Regions from separate parts of the Homo sapiens genome. Here region 1 is linked to region 2. The links come from fine-mapping of genetic effects on plasma protein levels. Region 2 holds a variant in brackets. A gene starts in the other region. All regions are shown on one strand. Distances are between the middles of the regions.

Evidence for each region. PIP is the chance, under the fine-mapping model, that this variant and not a neighbour inherited with it causes the effect. Protein levels are from antibody-based Olink assays in UK Biobank. Linkage for the fine-mapping came from a reference panel and not from the study's own genotypes, which makes the PIPs less certain.
Region 1: it holds the start of AHSP, and the variant in region 2 is fine-mapped to the plasma level of the AHSP protein (UK Biobank, PIP 0.93).

What each region holds. Positions count from the first base shown.
Region 1 is chr16:31,523,934-31,532,254 of GRCh38, reverse strand. AHSP (alpha hemoglobin stabilizing protein) reads right to left here and starts at 4,355. Exons shown (of 3, transcript NM_016633.4): 1 at 4,293-4,355; 2 at 4,041-4,119; 3 at 3,452-3,797. The coding sequence starts at 4,115. The coding sequence ends at 3,564.
Region 2 is chr16:159,913-168,208 of GRCh38, reverse strand. It overlaps HBM (hemoglobin subunit mu), which reads right to left and starts at 2,231. Exons shown (of 3, transcript NM_001003938.4): 1 at 2,120-2,231; 2 at 1,737-1,941; 3 at 1,445-1,629. The coding sequence starts at 2,211. The coding sequence ends at 1,501. LOC107983982 (a long non-coding RNA gene) reads right to left here and starts at 7,262. Exons shown (of 3, transcript XR_001752047.1): 1 at 6,781-7,262; 2 at 5,652-5,716; 3 at 5,288-5,573. It also overlaps the pseudogene HBZP1. RefSeq lists an enhancer at 3,924-4,424. The variant G/A (reference allele first, on the strand shown) is at 7,102.

The sequences.
Region 1 (8,321 bases), 31 Mb before region 2:
AGAGTGAGAAAGACTTAGTGCCAGGGTCAGGCTGAGTGTGTAGTTCAGGCTCAGCATAAGTTTCAGATTCACAGCAGGTTCAAGGACATGGTGAAGGTATGGATAAGGGTCCTTATAGAGTCAGGGTGAGGTCAGGATCAAGGAGACCATAAGGGTCAAGTCAGGGTCAGTGGAAAGTAAGCAGCAGAGTCAGGGTCAGGTAAGGGTCAGATTTATGGTCATGATGAGGGTTATGGTGACATTAAGATTTCCAGGCCAGGGGAGGGTCAAGTTGAGTGCCACTGTAGGGTTAGCTTCAATGTTCGGTTGGGATTAAGGGTGATGCTAAAACTGAAGGCAAAAGTGAGGGTCCGGGTCAAGTACAGAATCAGGGTCAGGGTGAGAACGAGATAGAGTGTGTAAGTGACAGTCAGGATCAGGGTCTGGTGAGTGTCACAGTCAGATGCAAGGTGAGAGTGAGCACCAGGGTAAGGCTCAGGTGTGAAGGAGGGGGTGGTGTCAGAACGAGAGCAAGGTCAGAGTCAAGGTGAGAGTGTATGCTTCAGGGTCAAGAGTCATGGTTAAAGGCCAGGTGCAGTGGCTCACACCTGTAGTCCCAGTGCTTTGGGAGGCTAAGGTGGGAGGCTTGCTTGAGGCCAGGGGTTCAAGACCAGCATGGACAACATAGTGAGACCCCATCTCTACAAAAAATACAAAAAAAAATAGCCAGGCATAGTGGCATGCACCTGTGGTCCCAGCTACTCAGGAAGCTGAGGTAGGAGGATCGCTTGAGCTCTGGAGGTCAAAGTTGCTGTGAGCCATGCTGGCACCACTGCACTACAGCCTGGGTGACAGAGCAAGACCCTGCCTCTTTAAAAAAAAAAAAAGTCATAATTATGATCACTGTCTAGGTCAAGTTGAGGATCAAGGGTCAGGGTCATAGTGAGGGTCAGAGTCAACATCATGCTAAGGGAAGGGTCAGTGAAGGTCAATTTCAGGGTAAGGGTCAGGGTAGGATTCAGGTTGAGGGTCAGAGACAGGGTGAAAATTAGGATCAGGTAAAGTTTAGGGTCCAATTCAGCATCAGGATCAGTATAAGAATGAGAATGAGAGGCAATGTCAGTGTGAGAGTCAGGGTCATTGTGAGGGCAAGGTGTCCATTATGATCAGGGGCAAGATGAAGCTAGAGGTGAGGCTCAAGTTCAGGGTCAGCTCTAGGTCAGGTTCAATATGAGGGTGAGGATAAGGGCAGGGTTATGGCTATAATGTTTTACCATTTATTTACAATCTTATTTCTAGTATTAATTCAGATACTGCTAAGCAAAAGAAGGTTATTCTTACTAATTCTAATTTATTTTCCTTCAGGAACAGTAATGGATTTGGGGCACTCTCTGCTTTAGTTATTTTATTTTTATTATTATGAACCATCAGGTTCATATCACCGTCTCTGAAAAATCAAAATATCCCCAATTTTACTTCTTGTAGATTTATAACCAGTCACTTCGTTGATAGTAATATGAGAGCAGAAAGTGCAGGTAACAGATTTTTCTGTCTTAAAAATATTTTTTGCAGCTTCTCAATTGCACAAGCTTATGGAATGGTCGGAATGGAGTTTCAATGTTGAACTTCCCAGTGAGAATCTTTTCTACCTTACACCTGTAATTGGTCATTTTCCTTTGAGCACCTGAGAAGTGCTTAGCTCAGCAGCTCCCATAGCTGGATAGTTATAAAGGTATGGAAAATTCCTCTTCATGAATTGAGCCAAAGCGGCTTCTAACATTCTTTTCAGCTAAGCTGAAAGACAAATACAGTGGTCCCTCCGTATCTGTGGGTTCCGCATCTGTGGATTCAACCAACCAAGGATGGAAAATATTTGGGGAGAAAAATGGATGGTTGCCTCTGTACTGAACATGTACAGGCTTTTTTTCTTGTCGTTACTCCCTAAATAATACAGTGTAACAACTATTTGCACAGCATTGACGTTGTAGTCGGTATTGTAAGTAATCTAGCCATGATGTGAAGTCCACGAAGAGATGTGCGTGGGTTACATGCAAACATTTCGCCATTCTGCATAAGGCACCGGAGCGTTGTGCTGTGCGCTCTCCTAGCGTCCCCCACTCACTTTCCTCCACCCACACACACCAGGCCAGGTCTCTCTTGCAAAGGTGAGGCTGCCGACTACTGTCCCGCCTGAGCGGGCTCTGGTCCTCACTCACAGACTGAGATTTCCTGAGAGGTGCCGTGGAGAAGGCCCCAGACTCTGCCTGGACCACCGACCCCAACCCAGAGGAGCTCGCCGCCTGCTTCCCTGGGAGGCGCCACTCTCCCAAGCTGGATCTAGGGCCGACCACACCCCAGGGTTGGAAGCACCGCTGGGGACACTGAGCGGGTTCCCTTTCCACCCTGATCCAGGCTGCAGAGACCTACAAAACAACAGTCGGTTCACAAGTCCCAGAGGAAAGCTTGCTGGAGGTTGGAACGAGGAGCAATCCCTCTGGGCCCCAAACTTTTCCCGCGTTAGAGAGAACACCGAAAAGGTCCAGAACTGCGCCCTCCAGCTCCCCGCGCGCACCCTGAGCCGCGTCTGATTGCTGTGCGGCGCCTCCTAGCCGCGCCCCCGCCCCGCGCACCCCCGCCCCCGCTCAGCACCCCGGGAACCCCCTCCCCCCGCGCGCCCCCGCCCCGCGCACCCTCCCCCGGAGGGCCCTCCCCTCTGCGCGTGGAGGCTTTTCCTGGAGACTGCGCCGCGGGTCTAACACCTTCATTTCGTTTTTAAAAAGCTCTTGAGTCTGGCCCGTCCCTGGTTCCGCCCAGAGCCCTAAAATAGAGGCTTCGAGTCTGGAGGTCTGGGAGAAAGGGAGCTAGACCGGGAATTGATCTGAGAAGCTTGGGGTGGGGGGAAGGCGGATTCCTCTGCTTCCCAATCCTGGCATCTGCGCCCAGGGATGTTGGAGCCAAAGGGAAGTGGCTTCCCCTCCTGAAATATAAGGGGCGCGCTAAAGGGTTCCCAGGATCCCTTCCAACTCTAAATTCCTGCGATGCCTGGGGCTCCGGGGAGGTATTTTGCGGTAGTCAGAGTCCGAAGATCCTAGAATGTAGTTTGAGCTGGGGCTAAGGACAGGGGATTGAAAAGTCGAGGCGGTGGACCTGGCGCAGGATGAACAAGACTGGGAGACTTCCAACAGTTTCCTCCTCGACAAGCAGGTCACAGGACAATGTCTGGAGGACTTCTATCCCCCTTTCTTGTTTCTGCCACCCCCTCCCCTGCAGCTCTGCACTCTCTCTAGTCCCGCCTTCCTGGCCCTCGTTCAGCCTGTTTTAGTTTAGAATCGCTGCCCGGTGGTCACTCAAGGCTGCTAACCTCTGCTGTAAGGAATTAAGCTTCCAAGAGCATATCTAAGAAGGAGGGCGGAAGGAAAGGGACCGAGTGCCTCCACATGTCAGGACAGACCATGAAAGAGAAGCCAGGAAGTCCAACAAAACCAGCACTGGTCTTTATTGAGGTGTCAGGGTAGAGTGGCAGGAGCACAGCCTAAGGACATGAAGGTCAGAGTTTCTCAGAGAGGAGGGGCTGGGTCCCTGAGCTAGGAGGAGGGCGGTGGGTGACTCGGGAGCTCATGAGACTTCAGGAAGTCCCTGTACTTGGCCAGGAAAGGGTTGGCCAGAGTGTTCAGCTCTTGCCGAAGCTCCTGCAGAGCCTTGTCTCGCTCTTGGGGCTCCCCTGTCACCTGCTGCCTGTAATAGTTGATGTAGAAGTTCATCCAGTCCTCCACCACAGTCACCATGTCTTCTTCAGAGACGAGAGGATCATTGAAGACCTGGGGGGTTGCGGAGAGGCAGTTGGCAAGGGAGAATGTGGTCAGCAATGGGATTCGGGAATACTAGAATAGTGCCACAGCACCAACTCTCACATTCTCTTTCCTCTGCATTGTATCCCGTGTCTCTCGTTGTTTCCATCAACTCCACCATTACTTCACCAGCTCCAATTATCCTCTTCCTCCACTTCCCCGGCACCCCCCAGTCTCCAGGCCAGTCCTTTGAAATGGAAAGCTTGGACTCACCTGCTGATTCAGCAGAACGCTGAACTCCTTCAATCCTGCGGAAATGAGATCCTTATTGGCCTTAAGAAGAGCCATCTGCCTGGGTAGAGAAAAGGGTAGAATTTACATATCTGTTTCCCTCCTCACTGGGTATTTCCCCCAACCCACTTCCTCCCCTTAAAAATCCCTCCTGCCCTGCAGGGCTATCTCCTTTCCAAAACCTTTCACATCCTGCCCTGCTCTGAGGTCACGATTTTCCCAGGTTGGGCTCACCTTCAGGTCTAACAGGCTGTATATGTCTCACCCACACTCTTGAGGGTGCGTGAATCTCTCTGTGCCAAGCTATAGATGTAGGCAAGGAGTCAAGTGTCAGCCTAAGATAGAAACGCCCTGCATCTAGGTCCTGAAGGAGGGTGATAGGTCATTCTAGGGAGGAGAAGAAGGGAGAGGCTTCCCTGAAGGTAGAAAGATAACAAGGCCAAAAAAAAAAAAAAAAAAGATAAATGAGGAAACCCAGGAAATGCAAGAAGGCAAGAGCCAAACCAGGGGCATGTTCCTGCTTTTTGCCCCATATTTCAGTATCCAGGCTCGAAATGCTATGGAAATTGACGTTTACTGAGCCCTATTACATGACAGAGGCTTTTGTGTAATCACAACGATGTGATCGCAATGATTCTCCCAATTCGGAGATGATGTATTAATAGCAGCTTGCATTACATTTATTCATTTGTGCCAAGCACTGTTTCAAACATGTACAAAATATTTATCCTATAAAATTTCTTTTTAGACACATTTTGCAGATAAGCCACCTGTAAGCGTGTGGACTGAACTCCACCACGCTGTGCTCCATAAGAATGGAGATAAATAGCCGGGCGTGGTGGCGGGCACCTGTAGTCTCAGCTACTTGGGAGGCTGAGGCACGAAAATCGCTTGAACCCAGGAGGCAGAGGTTGCAGTGAGCCAAGATCACACCACAGCACTCCAGCCTGGGTGACAGGGCGAGACTCCATCTCAAAAGAAAAAAAAGAATGGAGATGGATTTGTCTTGTTTACTACCCTGTCAACAGGTACCCAATAAAGCAGAAATACTCTTTTTCCTCTTTTTAAATATTTTTCCAGATATTTTCCATTTTCAGTAGATGTTTCTCAAATTTCAAAATCACTATATACTAATTGAAATAATTAAAACAATACAAAAACGTACACTGAAAAACTGAATCATTTTTGCCCCCTCCAAAGTAACCAGCATTAAACATTGTATATTTCCTGTCACTTTTTTTTTCCATTCAAAACCCAACATTCATAGGTGCCTATACACTCATAAAGCTTTGTTGATTTGCCTTTTTGGTTGTAGCATTTTTTAATCAATATACAGCAAAACTGACTTCCTTTTGGTGTACAGTATATTAAATTTTTTTTTTTTGAGAGGGAGTCTCCCTCTGTGGCCCAGGCTGGAGTGCAGTGATGCGATCTCAGCTCACTGCAAACTTTACCTCCCAGGTTCAGGCGATTCTCCTGCCTCAGCCTCCCAAGTAGCTGGGATTACAGGCGTGCATCACCACGCCTAGCTAATTTTTGTATTTTAGTAGAGATGGGGTTTCACCATGTTGGCCAGGCTAGTCTCGAACTCCTGACCTCAAGTGATCGACCCACCTTGGCCTCCCAAAGTGCTGGGATTACAGGTGTGAGCTACCGCATCTGGCCTAGTTTATTAATTTTATAACAGATTTGTGTAACTACAAACGCAGTTAAGATACAGAATGTTTCTGTCACCCAAAAACCACTCCTTCACGTTACCCTTTTGTAGCCACCCCTACCCTCACCCATAACTTCTGGCAACCACTTATCTGTTCATCACTACAGTTAAGCCTTTTTCAGGATGTCATATAAATGGAATCATACAGTATGTAACCTTTGAGACTGACTTTTTTTGGTCAGCATGATGTTCTTGAGCTCCATCCAAGTTGTCACAAGTGTCAGTGGACACATTGCATTGTATGGATGCACTGTAGTTTGTTCATTCAGCCACGGAAGGACATCTGGATTGTTTGTACTTTGGGGCAAGTGTGAATAGAGTTGCTATAAACATTTGTGTACAGGTTTCCATGTGAACATGTTTTCATTTATATAGGGTGGAAAGTATGTGTTACCGGCCAGGCACGGTGGCTCCCATCTGTGATCCCAGCACTTTGGGAGGTCAAGGCAGGCAGATCACTTGAGGTCAGGAGTTCGAGACCATCCTGGCTAACATGGCGAAACCCCCTCTCTACTAAAAATACAAAAATTAGCCAGACATGGTGGCATGCACCTGTAATCCCAGCTACTTGGGAGGCTGAGGCAGGAGAATCGCTTGAACCCAGGAGGAAGAGGCCGCAGTGAGCGAAGATCACGCCACTGCACTCCAGCCTGGGTGACAGAGTGAGACCTTGTCTCTAAATAAATAAATAAATAAATAAATTTATTATCTTACAGACTTAGAGGTCAGAAATCTAAAATGAGACTCACTAGGCTAAAATTAAGTTGTCCTCTAGGCTGTGTTCCCCTTGGAATCTCTGAAAAAGAGTTCTTTTTCTTTCCTCTTCTAGTCTATAGAAGAACCCACATTCTTTCACTCCTGGTCCCTTTCCAGCTTGAAAGCCAGCAATGACCACCAGGTCCAGTCTTTCTCACATCACACCAGGCCGACTGTCTCCTACATCCTTTCACTTCTAAATAATTTTTCTTAAATATTTCTTTAAAAATAATTCATTACCAGATGGGAAAGATCAAGATCCCAATGCCCTTCCAAAGCTCATTAAGGAAAAGTTTCAGGAAGGTCTCTGGTACATGCCAGGAAACTCAAAAGAGATGGTGCTGCCTCAGATGGCTTAGAAGACCATGCTGCCAAGAACACATCTAACATTGAAGCCACGCACAGTGGCTCATGCCTGTAAGAGGCAGAGACGGCAGGATCGTCTGAGCCCAAGGGTTCAAGACCAGCCTGGGCAACATAGTGAGACCCCATCTTTTAAAAAAAAAAGGAAAAAAAAATCTAATTTTGTTCATTCCTCAAAATTTCCTGGCACAGTTGGAACTAATCTAACTACCTGGACTATAATGAATTGCAGAGTAAAATTAGTGAGATGTAGTGAAGAATTGAAGTCTCCTCCCTCAACCAGTGTCTTGAGAATAGCAGGGGAAACTGATTCCCTTTCAGCATGCTAGATACATCAATAAAGGAAGGGTTGAACGTGAGATTACAAAAACACATTTGCTAAAGAATTGTAGAAAACCAGGATCACAAACTCATTCTGCAACAGAAAAATAAAGCACTGCTGATTTACAGAGGAATTCACTTCTGGTGATGTCTCTTAAAAATTAAGAAACCTAATAGGAACTCCCTCATCGAGGCAGGCTCTGCTTCAGCTGAACAAGAAATTAGCCAGAGGGAGGAAAAGAGAACTGTTTGGACTTCCAGGAAGGCCTCTCCTTCCACCGAGAGGACTGCAATGAAGACCTCAATCATCAGGGAAAGAAGAGCCTTCTCCAGAAATCTGATTGGAATTGATGACCCAAATCCCACTCAGTCAACGCAAAACCCTGACTTGCTCGTGGCAGTACCAGGTTGGAGTCAGGGCAAAAAGGTTGTAGATTTCATGTTACATAGTTTGGCCCATGGTTTCCCCTGTGAACATTTTGGGAGGGAGGTGAGAGCTGAACTGGTTAGGTGGAACCTTGGTCTTATTTCCTGGAGATGTGACGTTTTTGGGGCCTGTTCCTGCTGTGACTGGCACAGCAATCAGGACCTGCAGCCTCCAGAGGGTCCCAGGGCTGGGGAGGAGACATGAGCCTTGCGCATCTGAAGGTCAGCGTCTTGGCAGCATGGCTACTCGCAAGAGGGAGGAGCTCACTCTGGATCCATTCGAGAGAGACTTGTCCCTTCCCCCTCTTCTGCCCCACCCCTGGGCCACTTTCCTGTCCCCTGACTCCCACTTGACTTTGTTTTCACTAATTGGAGCTTAGCTCAGAAAATGGAGGGGGCTGAAGTTATAGGTTATGGGAGGGGAAATTTAAGTTTGGGAAGACAGAGGCTCCCTTGATTGGCACTATCAGCCACATCTGCAGCCACATGAGGGTCTCAATGCTGGGGCAGGGGGCAGTGAGACTGGCCAGGAACCTGAGTCCCCCGGGGACTCGCAGACACCTGCCCCACACATCCTGAGTGTGCTGAGGGAGACCCAGCCGAGATCAGCTGTGCTCCTGGGTAGGTGAGAGCAGGCCCTGCAGGGGGCCCAGTCCACCCAGGAAGGATGCCCAGAGTGG
Region 2 (8,296 bases):
GAGGGCAGATCACTTGAGGTCAGGAGTTTGAGACCAGCCTGATCAACATGGTGAAACTGTGTCTCTATTAAAAATACAAAAATTAGCCAGGAATGGCGGCCCATGCCTGTAATCCCAGCTACACGGGAGACAGAGGCAGGAGAATCGCTTGAACCCAGGAGGTTGAGGCTGCAGTGAGCCAAAACTGTGCCACTGCACTCCAGCCGGGGTGTCAGAGCAAGGGCCTATCTCAAAAACAAAAACAAAGCAAAAAAAAAAAAAACCCCCAAAAACAAAAAAACAGTTGGGGGATGTAGATAACGTGGGGCCAAGTTCTCCAAACTACCGGGCTGGGGTCCCAGGCAGTGCAGGGCAACAGGTCACTGGCACTGACTGCTGGGGGGAGTTTGGCCGACTCACAGTCAGGGCTCCACTTCCAGCAGCTCTCTTCAGACCTCGTTGCTGACTGCCAGGTCAGACCTGGGTGCCAGGCCTGGTCCAGTGCTCCCCACACAGACCCAGGATGGCCAACCCAGAGCCAACCCTATTCAGGGTTTGGAGACCTCCAAGGTCCCACTCTTTCCTCAGCCCCTATTCTTTGTCTGAAAAGCCTGGGGTGGAGCCCTAAGATTCCCTTCCCAGTCCTGGGGAGGGAGAAGAGGGAACCTGGGGAAGGGAGTGCCTTGGCCTGGGCACCTGCAGAGATTGAGACACGGCAGCTGGGGCTGGGTGGAGGGGTGGGGTGGCAACGACCCTGCAGGCACCCACCCTGTGTTATGATTTCAAAAATTATTTCAAAAATCTCGTGAGTTGGACGTTGTTTTTCTATTCGATAGGTAAAGGCCTGAGAGCTCTGGGACACGCCCAGGGTCGCACAGCTTGTCATTGAGCAGGCTGGAAGACTAAACCTGCTCTGTCTGCCAAATTGTGGCCACTGAGGACTTCCTCCCGACCTCATCCCCAGGGCTGCAGGGTCACAGGGAGGGCTAACCAGGCTAGCGCAGGTTTGCCACTGAGGAAGTGTCCATGGGGGAAGGAAGGGGAAAGGAACAGGTCTGCGGAGCCCTCTGCTCTGGGCCAACGAATTAGGTTGCACATTTGGCTCTGGGACCTCAGTTTCTGCATCTCTCTGCAAAAAGGGCCAGGATTAGCATCTACAGGTCCCAGCAGGAAGTGGGGATGGAGGGAGAATGAATGAATAAATGCGTGAATGGGGAAGTGCTTTGCGAACAGTATGGTTGGAAGCCCGATTCAAGGGTTGAAGTCGAAGGCCACCCTCCCTACCCCCGCCACATCACAGTGCTCCCTCTGCCCCATCGCACTCCTCGCCATGGGAGGACAAACCTCCGGGGGTGGGGCGCATTTGAGAGTTCTAGGAGGCTCCTTTTAGGTCCCTGAGCTTCACTGGCCAACAATAGTGACCTCGCTTTGCTAGCTCCCCAAAGACCACACAGGCAGGGGCAGATGGTTCGGGCCTCTGTTTATTGACAGGCACAGACCAAGGCCTGCGCAGCACAGGGCTCAGCGGTATTTTTCGGTCAGCACCACGGCCACACCAGTCAGGAACTTGTCCCACGCCGCTTGCATTTGCACGGTGAACTCGTCCTGCAGGTGGGAGGCCAGCACGACGTGGAAACACTGGATTAGCAGCTGCAGGAGAAGGGGCCGGTGAGACGGGGTCTGCCCCGCTAGGGACCCCCAGAGCCCCCCCACCCCGGCTGCGCGCTGCACCATTGCCCCGGCCGGAAAGGCCTCACCGGAAAGTTGGCTGGGTCCACGCGCAGCACGAGCGCGTGCAGGTCCGCCAGCGGGCTCAGCGCGGCGCGCAGGTTGTCCACGTGCTGCACCGCCGCGCCCACAGCCGCCAGCATGCGCTGCCCGTGGCTCAGCAGCTGCGTCGCGTCCTGGCAGGCGCTCAGGTGCGGGAAGTAGACCTTGGTGCTGGGGTACACCGTGAAGAGCCTGCAGGACCAGGTCAGTGACCGGGGAGGAGGGCGGCTGCGTGGGGCTTCACTAGCGCCCACACCGCCCAGAGCCCGGGGATCCGCACCCGAAGGACCTTGGATGGCGTTGGCGGCCCACGCGCCCAAAACCCTCATCTCCACCTCCCTGAGCTCCCGGAGACCCCGCCTCTACCGACCTGAGCAGCAGCTCCGCCCCGAATTGCGCCTCGTGGCCCGCAATCAGGTCCCAGACCTGCGCGATTTGGGCGCGCTCCTGGGCGCTGAGCATGGCGCCGCCTGACGTGCTCTGGGGGCCGCGCCCGCCGCCCTGGCCTCCTTATAGAGCCTCCGGGCACCCCGCCCGTCCTTATCGGCCCGAGCGCGGCGGGAACGCGGGGACCCTCGGCCTGCGCCGGGGAACGTAACCAGCCCGGGTTCCCGTCTGTGTGGAGGCCTCGACCTCCGGGATCCCAGGGTTTCTGGCATTGACCCACGCCGTTGCGCGTGGGCACCTTTACTGCAGACTTTAGGGGCATCTGTTTACTCCCCTCGGGTAAAGTTACTGCTCTGCCAGGAGGGAGCACATGGGAGGAACCGGAGAGAGAACACCGGGCAGGAAACCCCCTACTCTCTTAGGAGTCGGGGAGGGACCGGCCTCAGGGACCCCCGTAGCTGCCAGAGTCCCGGGATTCGGACGTCAGGCTTTGTGGAAAAGTTCCCTGAGCCCCGACACGCTTCCAATACGCTTAGTGAAGTGACAATCTTTGTGCGATATGGGAAGCCGGGAGACGCACAAACGCCCGTCCGACTCAAGGACCCCAGGAGACGCCGCGGGCCGGCCCGGGACTGCTCCGCTCCACCCGGGCCGCAGCTCCGGTGCTCAGGGGCTAGAACCTCCCCAAGGCGCCCCCCAAGTGAACCCCAGGCCGCGACGACAGTGGGGACGACCGAGTTCCTGCGAAGCCCCCGGACCCATCACTCAGCTTCTCCCCTCCTTCCCTCCAATACTGAGAACACAGAGCCCAGATCGCTCCGTCCTCATCCATTTATTGGAGTCAGGGCAGGAACTGTGGGAGGGTGAAGGGCAGGGGAGGGGCCGCAGCCTGTCCTGGGGGTCCCGGAGGCGGCGCTCAGCGGTACTTCTCGGTCAGGACAGAGGATACGACCGATAGGAACTTGGCCCAGGCGGCGTGGGCCTCGGCCGTGAAGTCGGCGGGGAAGCGCGCGGCCAGGGTGACCAGCAGGCAGTGGGACAGGAGCTGGGGGCGGGGGCGGCTCAGTGCGGGGGCGGGGCCTAGCCCGGGCCCCGCCCCGCGACCCCACCCCGCCCCGCCCCGCCCCGCGCCCCGCCCCGCGACCCCGCCCCGCGACCCCGCCCCGGCCCGGCCCGCCCCGCCCCGCGCCCCGCCCCGCCCAGCCCCTCCCCGCCCCGCCCCGCCCCGCCGGGCCCCGGCCGCCCCGCCCGCCCCGCCCCGCCCCGCCCCGCCCCGCGACCCCGCCCCGCCCCGCGACCCCACCCCGCCCCGCCCCGCGACCCCGCCCCGCGGCCCCGCCCGCCCCGCGGCCCCGCCCCGCCCCGCCCGCACCGCGCCCCGCGCACCTTGAAGTTGACCGGGTCCACGCGCAGGATGTAGGCGTGCAGCTCGCTCAGCTTGGACAGGGCGCCGCCGATGTCGTCGATGCTCTTCACCGCGTCGCCCACGGCGGCCACCACCTTGGAGCCGTGCGCGCGCAACTGCGCGGACCCCGGGTGCAGGTCGAAGTGCGGGAAGTAGGTCTTGGTCTGCGGGTGGCTGAGGAAGAGCCTGGGACGGGGGGCGGGGGCCGTGAGCTCCCAGCAGCGCGGCCTCCCGCCACGGCCCACGCGCCCTGCGGCCCTCTCCGAGCACCGGGACACATCTGCGACCCCGCAGCAGGCCCCAGCCCCTCCTCGCGGGGCCCGGGTGCCCAGGCAGCTGCCCCTCCCAGGCTGCCCTGGGCTAGAGGCCCCCCAGGCCTCTGCAGCTCCCGGCTGATCGCCCTGCTTCCGACGGGTTCTGTGCAGCCTGGTCCCCAAATCTCCCGCCCTCCGCCTCCAGCACGCCTGGTGCCCCCAGCCCCTCCACCGTCTCCTCTGGCCACAGGACCTCCCTCCCAGCCCCAGACTGGGTTGCCCGCCACCCCTTCTGCAGGCTCATGACCTCCCAGCAGCGTTCCAGGGAAGGAAAAGCTCCCTGGCCCCTCCCAGGGGATCAGATGCTGGGAATTTGAAGCTGGGACAGTGCCCTGATCCCAGATGCTGGGACTTTAGAGGCTGTAGTGCCCTGGCTGCCCTGTAAGGCCCTTCAGGCCTAGAACGAAACCTTTCACCCTCTGCTTGTCAGAACCTGGGCCTGTGCCTGCCCAGGTCTCAGCGAGCCCAGATGGTTGTGCAACTCCTAATCGTTCCCTCCTTACCCTGCCCTCCTCACTGAGAGGGAAGGCTATCTGTCTCCACTGTCCCCTCCCCACAGTCCCCTCCTCACTGTCCCTTCCTCACTCTCCCCTCCCCACTGTGCCCTCCCCATGGTCCCCTCCTCACTGTCCTCTCCCCACAGTCCCCTCCTCACTGTCCCCTCTCCATTGTCCCCTCCTCACTGTCCCCTCCCCATGGTCCCCTCCTCACTGTCCCCTCCCCAAGGTCCCCTCCTCACTGTCTCCTTCCCACGGTCCCCTCCTCACTGTCCCCTCCCCACGGTCCCCTCCTCACTGTCCCCTCCCCACGGTCCCCTCCTCACTGTCCCCTCCCTACGGTCCCCTCCTCACTGTCTCCTCCCCACGGTCCCCTCCTCACTGTCCCCTCCCCACGGTCCCCTCCTCACTGTCCCCTCCCCACTGTCCCCTCCCTATGGTCCCCTCCTCACTGTCCCCACTCCACGGTCCCCTTCCCATGGTCCCCTCCTCACTGTCCCCTCTCCACTGTCCTCTCCCCACTGTCTCCTACTCACTGTCCCCTCCCCACGGTCCCCTCCCCACTGCCCGCTCCCCACTGTCCCCACTCACATACCTGGCCTCCCACCCAGTCCCTCTGGCAGTCCCATCTGACACTCACCTCTCCAGAGTCTCGGTGCCGATGGTGTCGGCCTGCGTGGAGATCTTGGCCCACATGGACACAATGATGGTCCCCTAAGTCTTGGTCAGAGACATGGCGGCAGGGTGGGCGGCTGCACTGGAGTTGGGCCTGCTCAGGACTGGCCTTGGTAGTGCTCAGCCCCCAGGGTCCCCTTATATACAGGGAGCTGGGCCCAGCCAGGCTGTGGCCATTGGTCAGGTGAGGGGAGGGGGCTGCAGGGGTGGTGTTTCTTATCAGATCCAGTGACAAAGGGGCCCTCAGGTGGGACTGGGGGCTGAGGAACCTATCGCTTCTGTCTCCCCTTCTGCCCACCCCTGAGTCACAGCTGGAGCCCCAGCTTCAGGGAGATTGGGGCCCCAATCTGGGCATGAGAGTCCACGTGGTCAGCCCAGCCCGGACTGGCCTCAGGAGTGACTGTCCTTGACCTCCCTGTCCCTGTGATGACAGGGTGACCTAGAGCACATGGGCCCTGGCAGAGGGACGATCCATTCCTCACTTCACTGAAACTTCTCTGGCCCACCTTATGAGCTCCAGTTTGCAAATGAGGAAACCGAGACCCCCTAGAGAGAAAGTGGGACCCAGTGTCACAGGGTGGGAAGGGACAGACCTCTCCCACCTCCGGTGTGCAGCCCCCTCACCTGAATGAGGCTCGGTCTGGGGTTCTCCTCCAGTAGCCTTGTAGGGGACACTCTGAGCCGGGCACCTAGGCAGGAAAGCGTCTTGGGAGGCCGGACTCCTCACAGAAGGTGAGGTCATGCAGGCCTGCAATTCTGCTCACTATGTTCTCATCGCAGCCTGGAGGAGACCCTCCTCCAGCTCTACTGATTTATTTCTTTTTATCCTCTCTGTTTATTAACTCCCCCCTCCTCCGTTAGACAACCATTTCTATGTGCTGAATATATTCCTTTTAGTTAGTACGTGTGCTTGCAAAGGGTATGATTTTATGCATGTATTTTAAATTTATACGAATTATAGGTAGATATAAAAATTTTGTTTGTTAGTTTGTTTCTGAGATGGAGTCTTGCTCTGTCTCCCAGACTGGAGTGTGGTGGCATGATTTTGACCCACTGCAACCTCTGCCTCCTGGGTTCAAGTGATTCTCCTGCTTCAGTCTCCTGAGTAGCTGGGATTACAGGCACACACCACCACGGCCTGGCTAATTTTTGTATTTTTAGTACAGATGGAATTTCACCATGTTGGCCAGGCTGGTGTCGAACTCTTGACCTCAGGTGATCTGCCTGCCTCGGCCTCTGAAAGAGCTGGGATTATGAGCGTGAACCACCGTGCCCGGCCCATGCACATCTTTTTTAAATAGAGGATTTTTTAAAACAAGGGAAAAAAAGGCTGGGCGTGGTGGCTTGCTCATGGGGCCGCACATGGTGGCTCGTGGTTGTGATGAGGTCGCATCACTGCACTCCAGCCTGGGTGACAGAGCGAGGTTCTGCCTCAGAAAAAATAAAAATAAAAATAATAATAATAGAAAGAGAGAAAATGCATCTTCACACACTGATGCTTTTCCGTTGCTGCGTCAGCAAGCGTGCCCCCATCCCCGCTGACAGGTGCAACATCTTCAGCCTGCAGAGCTCCCCTTTGTGAACAAGCTCTAGTTTTTTTCTATTATAAACAACTCCATGAAGAATATCAGTGCTTTGGATCTTTTCCTGGTGATAGACCTCTAGAAGGGGAATTACTAGAAGGAGACTCAAGAGTATTCGTTTTTTAGCTTTTTGAAACAAATTACTTTTCAAGACAATTATATGGACTTACAGTTGCAAAATTAGCTGTTTGAGGCTCAGTGTGGGTGCCCTTCCTGCCCTCGGGCTGTCACCGCTGGCCTGGAGTAAGTTGGAAGTTTAGCACTACACACCATGGGGCAGCTTTCAGACCGCAGGCTGCAGAGGTGAGGGAATCCCACAGGAGACTGACACCCTTTGTTTTGAAAACTCCCTGGAGGGGGTCTCCAGCCAGAGTCAGGGTAGGGGGGGCAGGTGAGGCAGGTGAGGAGGGTATTGAAAGGACGCACAGGACCTTGGGGCCTGCAGTGTACCAGGCCTTGGGGTTGGGTGCATGAGGCAGAGGGATGCGTGC[G/A]ATAGGATGTTAGCAACGGTAAATCAGCCTGGCTTGGAACCGGGTCAGGCGACTCCCCTGAGCCCCCTCTTCCCAAGCAGGGGCGCCTTTGGTCCTCAGAGGCTGGGGCATGGGGTTGCAGGGGCCTGGACGAGAGGGGCCGGGAGATCCTGAGGGCAGCAGATAAGGGCTGTACCACCAGCCCCAAGGCAGGCCCACAGCACCAAGTCTTTTCTCCCTGTAGCTGCAAGCCGTGCCGGGCTCCCTCACAGCCTGTGCCCCACAAGCCGTCCCGGGCACCTCTCACAACCTGTGCCCCACAAGCCGTCCTGGGCACCTCTTGCAGCCTGTGCCCCACAAGCCGTCCTGGGCACCCCTCACAACCTGTGCCCCACAAGCCGTCCCGGGCATCCTCACAGCCTGTGCCCCACAAGCCGTCCCAGGCACCTCTCACAGCCTGTGCCCCACAAGCCGTCCCGGGCACCCTCACAGCCTGTGCCCCACAAGCCGTCCCAGGCACCTCTCACAACCTGTGCCCCACAAGCCATCCCGGGCATCCTCACAACCTGTGCCCCACAAGCCGTCCCGGGCACCTCTCACAACCTGTGCCCCACAAGCCGTCCCAGGCACCCTCACAGCCTGTGCCCCACAAGCCGTCCCGGGCACCTCTCACAACCTGTGCCCCACGAGCTGTCCCGGGCACCCTCACAGCCTGTGCCCCACAAGCCGTCCCGGGCACCCTCACAGCCTGTGCCCCACAAGCCGTCCCGGGCACCTCTTGCAGCCTGTGCCCCACAAGCCGACCCGGGCACCCTCACAGCCTGTGCCCCACAAGCCGTCCCGGGCACGTCTCACAACCTGTGCCCCACAAGCCGTCCCGGGCACCTCTCACAACCTGTGCCCCACAAGCCGACCCGGGCACCTCTCACAACCTGTGCCCCACAAGCCGTCCCAGGCACCCTCACAGCCTGTGCCCCACAAGCCGTCCCAGGCACCTCTCACAACCTGTGTCCCACAAGCCGTCCCGGGCACCTCTCACAACCTGTGCCCCACAAGCCGTCCCGGGCACCTCTGAAACCTGTGCCCCACAAGCCGTCCCGGGCACCTCTCACAACCTGTGCCCCACAAGCCGTCCCGGGCACCCTCACAGCCTGTGCCCCACAAGCCGTCCTGGGCACCTCTCACAGCCTGTGCCCCACAAGCCGTCCAGGGCACC